2 linked regions of the Homo sapiens genome follow. The protein of the gene in region 1 purifies or fractionates together with the protein of each later gene. This does not show direct contact. Each region holds a gene or a part of one and is shown on either strand. Other genes may lie near its edges. The genes, in order: ZNF354C and CBLIF.

Region 1 (3,827 bases):
ATTTTCCTCTTTTTATTTTATCACAAAGAGAGACATATTCATTTCTTCTAATAAGCTGCAACCAAAAGACTGCACTCTCTTTGTAGGAATCTCTTGAGAATAATGAAAATCTGCAGGAGATTTGAAGTCAGTATGTCTTAAAGTCCTGAAAAATGCCCAAGCCCCAAGCTCAGCTTTGATTCTGGGTGAAAAGATTTAGTTCGAGGTGACTCTAAACTACTCTCTGTTAAAACCTGATTTCCTTTCATCAATCCATGATAGAAAATAGGTTAACATTAGATAACTGCAATTAGGTAATTGTGTGTACTTTAACCTATACAACTCAAACAAAATACAACTGGCCTGAGCATCTCAAGAGGACTCAGTATTTCCAAGAGTTTCCCAAGAACTGCCTCTTTGTGACCTACTTGTCTATAAAGAACCCCTTGTGCCCATTTCCCAGCCTCTCACTTACCTAGACGGGTATCTGAAGGGACTTCTCTTTCCACCATGCAGGGATCTTCTCCTTGCTGCAACTGATGAATCAACTTTGGCATTGAAAATGGAATCCCTGCTCATGAGGAAGCAAATGAAGTTTGAACAAATAGCATGAAGACCAATCCTAGAACTGACCTACTACTCACTCTGAACCAACACAGCAAAGAAGGCAAGCCCTGAGAGGCAGACAAGGCAGCACAAGCACTTCGCAGGGGCACTGGAGCTGTCAATGGCCGGGGAAGGTCTCAGTTCAGAACCATTATAGGGCCCTGACAATGAAGGCCTCTAAGATGGGGGGTCCCTATGTGTTTTTCAGAATCTAAACTGGGATCTCTAGTCATTGGCCTACTCCAAGGAGGGAACTGATTGGCGGTAGGATGTGAGGGAGAGTGGAGGGTAGAGAAACAGATAGCAAGAAGGGCATCACAACAAAGATGTACACTTTCCACTCTACAGCAATTCAGCCTTTCTGAGGGGCTCAGTAGGGTACAAGACCACAGGCTCGGAACCCCAAAGATGGACCTGTGAGGCGTTCCTATAACAGATTCTTCGTCATAGGCAAAAATTCTTACCCAGTGAGACCAGGCTGCTGTAGTTCTCCAGCATCACCTCCCGGTACAAGGCCCTCTGGGCAGAGTCCAGGTGCAACCACTCGTCCTGGCTGAAGAACACGGCCACATCCCTGAATGTCACAGGCTCCTGTAATGGCAAACCCATACCTGCTCACCCAGGACCATCTTCTTCAACGGAAAATGCAGGAAGAAAGTGACAGTGGGATGTACAGAAAATCTCAGGATTCTAATAATTCACGTCAACTGTTTACGTAATTTTTGGAACCACCCATTAGCTATTTAATTAAAAAAGTATTTATGGAGTACTCATTGAGAACAATGACACATGCCACGTGCAGTGGGAGTAGGGGAAAACAGGCAAAGTTCCTGCCAACAGGCAATTTAAATACCAGCCTGGGATCTTTCTCAAGAGAAGGCGATGTGATGACAGAAGCAGAGACTGGAGTGCTAGGCTCGGAAGATGGATGAGAGGGCCACAAGCCAAGGGCTGCAGGGAACCACTAGACGGTGAAAAGGGCAAGGAAACAGATTTTCCCCTGAGAGCCCTAGAAGGACCCAGCCCTGCCGACAGCCTGACCTCAAGCCAGTAAAACTGAATTCAGACTTCTGACTTCCAGAACTGTAAAAGAATACATTTATGCTGTTTCAAGATGCTGCATTTGTAGTAATTTGTTACAGCAGCAATAAGAAAGAAATACAATGTGAACAATTGAAGACAACCTACATATCTATCAATAAGGGAATGGATAAGCAAATTTCAGTACATTTATTCCATGAAACGTCATGCAGCCGCTAAATAGAATGAGGTAGATCTCTATGACACTGGAATTTGACCTTCATATATTATTGATTCATATGAAAAAGCCAGCCACAAAAGAATCTATATTTGTTGAAAAACTCTACATCTGTATATACATATATATGACACATGCACAACTATCTGGAAGGATACAAGCTGTCACCCTCGTTATTCTTTGATATTTGTGGAGAGGGGCAGAAAAGCAATCTTTCACTTATTACTTTATGCCCTATCATTAGGCTTACAGTTTTTTACAGTTAGGGAGATTGTGTGTATGTATGTGTGTTCCTTTGCTTTGAATTTTCTTAAATTCCATTTTATTTTATTTTATTTTATTTATAATTTTTTTTTTGAGATGGAGTCTTGCTCTGTTGCCAGGCTGGAGTGCAGTGGTGCAATCTCAGCTCATTGCAACCTCTGCCTCCCAGGTTCAAGCAATTCTCCTGCCTCAGCCTCCTGAGTAGCTGGGACTACAGGCACATACCACCAGCTTATTTTTTTTTTTTCTTTTTCTGAGACAGAGTCTCACTCTGTCGCCCAGGCTAGAGTGCAGTGGCGCGATCTCAGCTCACTGCAAGCTCTGCCTCCCGGGTTCACACCATTCTCCTGCCTCAGCCTCCCGAGTAGCTGGGACTACAGGCGCCCACCACCACACCCGGCTAATTTTTTTGTATATTTGTAGAGACGGGGTTTCACCATGTTGGCCAGGATGGTCTGATCTCTTGACCTCATGATCCACCTCCTGCCTCAGCCTCCCAAAATGCTGGACTTACAGGTGTGAACCACTACACTTGGCCTATTTTAACTTATATGTTGACTTTGTAGTTAGACCTCTTTGTATTTTTAGTGGTTACTCGAATAATTATAATGTACATTTTTGGTTACTCATCACCTATTTAGAGCTAATATATCGTTTCACATAGAATGCAAGAATCTTGCAAGTATATAGGACATCACCACCCTTCTTTATGCTATAGTTTTACAAAGATTTTCCCAGTTCAGAGAGTTGACAGCACTTACCAAACTTCACTGAGCGTATTCATGTCAAGGTTTTTATTGAAAGGCAAAGGGTACAGCACAGCAAGAGAAAGAGAGTTCAGGGAAGCACTAGAAAGCCAAGAGACACTCCATGTGCTGTCTCCCTTATTTGCACAGACCACGCCATGACTCTGGGTCTGTGTGAAGAATCTTGGTGTGGGAGAGCTCAAAGGAGGAACTCTCAGCAGGGGCCTTTTTATGTAATCAAGCAAGTCCTGTCAAATCATTTAGGCCAGTTGCAAGCCATCAGTAAGGAAGCTTACCAGGAGTAGCCAGTGGCATTGAGATCTTAAAAATACACAAGCCAGGCCGGGTGTGGTGGCTCACGCCTGTAATCCCAGCCCCTTGGGAGGCAGAGGTGGGCGGATCACCTGAGGTCAGGAGTGCGAGAACTTCCTGGCCAACACAGTGAAACCCTGTCTCTACTAAAAAAAAAAAAAAAAGTACAAAAATTAGCCAGGCGCGGTGGCTCACACCTGTAATCTCAGCACTTTGGGAGGCTGACGCGGGCGGATCACGAGGTCAAGAGATGGAGACCATCCTGGCCAACATGGTGAAACCCCATCTCTACTAAAAATACAAAAATTAGCTGGGCATGGTGGCACGTGCCTGTAGTCCCAGCTACTCGGGAGGCTGAGGCAGGAGAATCACTTGAACCGGGAGGTAGAGGTTGCAGTGACCCAAGATCACACCACTGCACTCCAGCCTGGGAGACAGAGCGAGACTCTTTCTGAAAAAACAAACAAAACAACAACAACAAAAACTTACACAAGCTGATGGCTGGGTTCAGTGGCTCACACCTGTAACCCTAGCACTTTGGTAGGCCAAGGTGGGTGGACTGCCTGAGCTCAGCAGTTCAAGACCAGCCTGGGCAACATGGTGAAACCCCATCTCTACTAAAAATACAAAAAATTAGCCAGGCTTGGTTGCATGCACCTGTT
Region 2 (3,691 bases), on another chromosome or scaffold:
TTGTATTTTTAGTAGAGACGGGTTTCACTATGTTGGTCAGGCTGGTCTTGAACTCCTGACCTCAGGTGATCCACCTTCCTTGGCCTCCCAAACTTTTGGGATTACAGGCGTGAGCCACCACACCCGGTCATTTTAGGTCTTCTGATACAAATTTTTATATTATTCTCTAGAAAGTTTGTACCAGTGTTCACTCCTACCAGTAGAGATTACAGTTATGTTTATCTTTGAAAGCTTAATTTTTTTTCAAAGATCTATATCTATTTATCATATAAAATATATAATATGTTAAATTATATATAATCATATAACATATATTAAGTTATATATAATCATGTAAAATATATGATATATTAAATTCTGTATAATATATTGAATATAAGTTAGTTTACTAAGTACATATTAAATGATCTAAATATATATTTTAAATATGAATTTAACAAAAAAATTGGAAATGGAAGGAGAGAGTTAAGACATAACATCAATTACCAAGTTTTGAACCATCTGGGAGTTTTATATGTTGAAATGTTTGGTCATTTCATGTATACATGTATGTACATACGTGGGCATATTTACGTTAGGCAATTTGAAAAGGAGTGCTTGGTATGATAAGAAAATATGAAATTTAAAAAATATATCATTTGTAGAAATAGGGAATGTGCTATTTAATTAATCAAGAAATCAGAATGATATCCAAAAATATCAGCTACTCTCCCTTTTCCCCTCAGCTTAGGTTTAAATGATGATTGGCAGTCATTGTGTTGAGAAGATGAAAATTTTATTTTCATGAGTCATAGATGTTGAGACTCCAGTGAACTTTGCATTTTTATTCTACATAGTGGTTCTCCATGTTTTTACCAGGAATATGGTAGCATCACAGGCATTCGCTTTTTTGCATAGATTTAAAATGAAGTGGAAAAAATTTCACCCATCCTTTGGAGATGTTTGATAGAAGCTGAACCCACCTCTTCGTTAGTACTGTGTGAAATTGGCTGTGATGTGCTCGTGGTTGAAGGGTATGTAGTCAGCAACCCCTGGAAATAAGCAGAGAATAACATGAGGTGACTGTGGTGCATGTAACCACCTCCATCCCCCAAGGGATGCAGTGAGCTAGATGCAGTGAACCCATTAAATGTTTTTAAAGGAGTAAAATCATCCTAGAGAGAAATAAGCAGTTTGATTATGAAGAGAAAATGAAACTGAGATTTAGGGAGTTCTTGTTTCCAGTCTCTGGTCACCACTTCATGGAGTAAGTCTTTGGGTATACCCTTTAAGATGCGCGAGTCTCTTTTTCCTCACATACAAGATTTTGTTAATAATATTTACTCTGAAGAGTTATTTTCAAAATTAGGAATAATGACCGCTGGGTACCTAATACAGTACCTGACACAGAATAATTGTGCAATAAGTGGTGGTTATTGTTAAAATGGCTTATTTAGGCCAAAATTAGGGCATTCAAGGGAGAACTTCCTGTTCATTTTTGAAGATTTTGTAAGACATAAGAAAGAGCAGTGGGTTGAGAATTTTTGTCTTTCAGAACAGGAAAGATAGATGATGGCAATATCTGTTACCTTTCAGGTAGCTGGCAACAGAAAGAATGACAGTTTCAGGCCCAAATATTTTTGTTTCTCAGAGGCCTTTACCATTCTTTCTCCCAGGGAAGAAAAGTAATTTGTAGACATGAGAATATGCCTGATTTAAGTTCCTGGGGCAATTACTTTCTTTTTTTTTTTTTTTTTTTTTGAAACGGAGTCTCGCTCTGTCACCCAAGCTGGAGTGCAGTGGTGCAATCTCAGCTCACTGCAAGCTTCGCCTCCTGGGTTCATGCCATTCACCTGCCTCAGCCTCCCGAGTAGCTGGGACTACAGGCACCCGCCACCACGCCTGACTAATTTTTTTGTATTTTTAGTAGAGACGGGGTTTCACCATGTTAGCCAGGATGGTCTTGATCTCCTGACCTCCTGATCCGTCCGCCTTGGCCTCCCAAAGTGAATTACTTTCTTTTTAAAAAAATTCTGGGTGTTTAAAAAATTTTTAATTTTTGTGGGTACATAGTAGGTGTGTATGTTTATGGGGTATATGGGATATTTTGATAGAGACATTTCTTGGGATGAAGGTGATGGGAAAACTAATAATAATAATGATGATTAATATTTTTGAATACATGCCATGCAAAAAACATTGTACTTAATCATTCTAAGTATATTATTTCCAATCCTTACAATAACCCAATAAATGATTAATGCAATTTCCATTTTAAAGCTGTGGAAACTGGCTCACAGATTTACTACTAATATAATGCAGCTATTAAATAAGAGAAAGAGCTTCTAGCCAAGTCCTCTGTGATTCCAAGATCTTTATTATATGCTTTGCTACAACTCCACAAATTCTGACTGGCAAGATTTTGCTAAATACATGATTGATTCTAAGAAAAACATCTCCTCCACTGTAATATTGGATAATGAAGCATCTTTACCAACCTATAGCCTTGGCTGTACTGTGACTTTATTTGCCTTTACATGTCTCTGCATGGTGACAGTTAACATCAGGTTAACTAGGTAACGTCATGCTTAGACCAAAACCATACAGCAATGCTCTTTAAATTGGGGAATATTTTAATATGTGTGCAAAAGCTTTAACAAATGTTAAGGTTTTGCTGAAGTCTGAGTTTTATTCTTCCCACTTTCTCCTAATTTTTTCAGGGGAAACATGCACCAACATCCATATGCAGGCATTCCTCTCTCTGGAGATTTTTTTAAGAGAGAAGGTGAAGCATAAATTTTGAGTGAAACTTTTGTACAAAGCACATTTGTCCTAGAGTTTGGAAACCTGGGTTTGATTATCCACTTTTACATTCTAGATGCATGCCTTGTACAAGACCCTTTAATGTCTCTTAAGACTTACTTTCCTTCTCTGTGAAAAGTATTATCGCTGCCTACAGAATTAATCTCTTTCTCTATGTAATGATTATATATATATATATATATACACAAAATATATGTGTGTATACATATATAAGCAATCACTGTTTATAGAATTATTGTATATACACATGATCTCATAATTATTAATTAAGTGAATGAATGAATAAATTAAATGAAAAAATAATTAAAGAATGTAGCCTTCAGACTATGGAAGATAACGCCTATGTCTTTTCTTCCCTCACCTTCATTCAAAGGTGTTACACCACTAAGAAACTGCCAGTATGTCTTGTGATTAACATTTTCCGCGATATTGTTGATAGAAGAGACGACAAGGCCCCAAGATGTCATTGTGGTTTCAAATCTAAAAAAAAGTTTATATATGATTAACATCTCACTTTAGGTCAGGGAATAAGCGGTAAGATGAAGGGATAGAGACAGTCAATTAATTAATTAGTTAATTAATTTTTTAGAGACAAGGTGTGACTTTGTTACCCAGGCTAGTGGTGAGATCCTAGCTTATGGCAGCCTCAAAATCCTGGGCTCAAGCATCCACCCGCCAGGATAGAGACACTTTAAATGCTTCAGATAAATGCTTCAGATATTTTAAATGATATTCTCTTTTGAGCATGATTTTATCTGATAAAATGATCAGATAAAATCAAATGAGAAAATGCTTTAACCAGTTTACTATTGATGGGCATTTAGGTTGATTCCATGTCTTTGCTATTGTGAATCGTGCTGCAATGGACATGGATGGAGGCCATTATCCT

What was found.
Region 2: the proteins of ZNF354C (region 1) and CBLIF purify together in Homo sapiens (affinity purification with mass spectrometry; one large-scale study listed by BioGRID and IntAct). This does not show direct contact.

What each region holds. Positions count from the first base shown.
Region 1 is NC_000005.10:179,073,794-179,077,620, reverse strand, and holds part of ZNF354C (zinc finger protein 354C), read right to left. Parts: intron 1,177-3,827; coding exon 1,050-1,176; intron 551-1,049; coding exon 455-550; intron 1-454. UniProt on the Homo sapiens protein: Transcriptional repressor that inhibits endothelial angiogenic sprouting. Suppresses osteogenic effects of RUNX2 and may be involved in osteoblastic differentiation.
Region 2 is NC_000011.10:59,828,515-59,832,205, forward strand, and holds the end of CBLIF (cobalamin binding intrinsic factor precursor), read right to left. Parts: intron 3,283-3,691; coding exon 3,164-3,282; intron 1,032-3,163; coding exon 970-1,031; 3' UTR 759-969; downstream 1-758. UniProt on the Homo sapiens protein: Promotes absorption of the essential vitamin cobalamin (Cbl) in the ileum. After interaction with CUBN, the CBLIF-cobalamin complex is internalized via receptor-mediated endocytosis.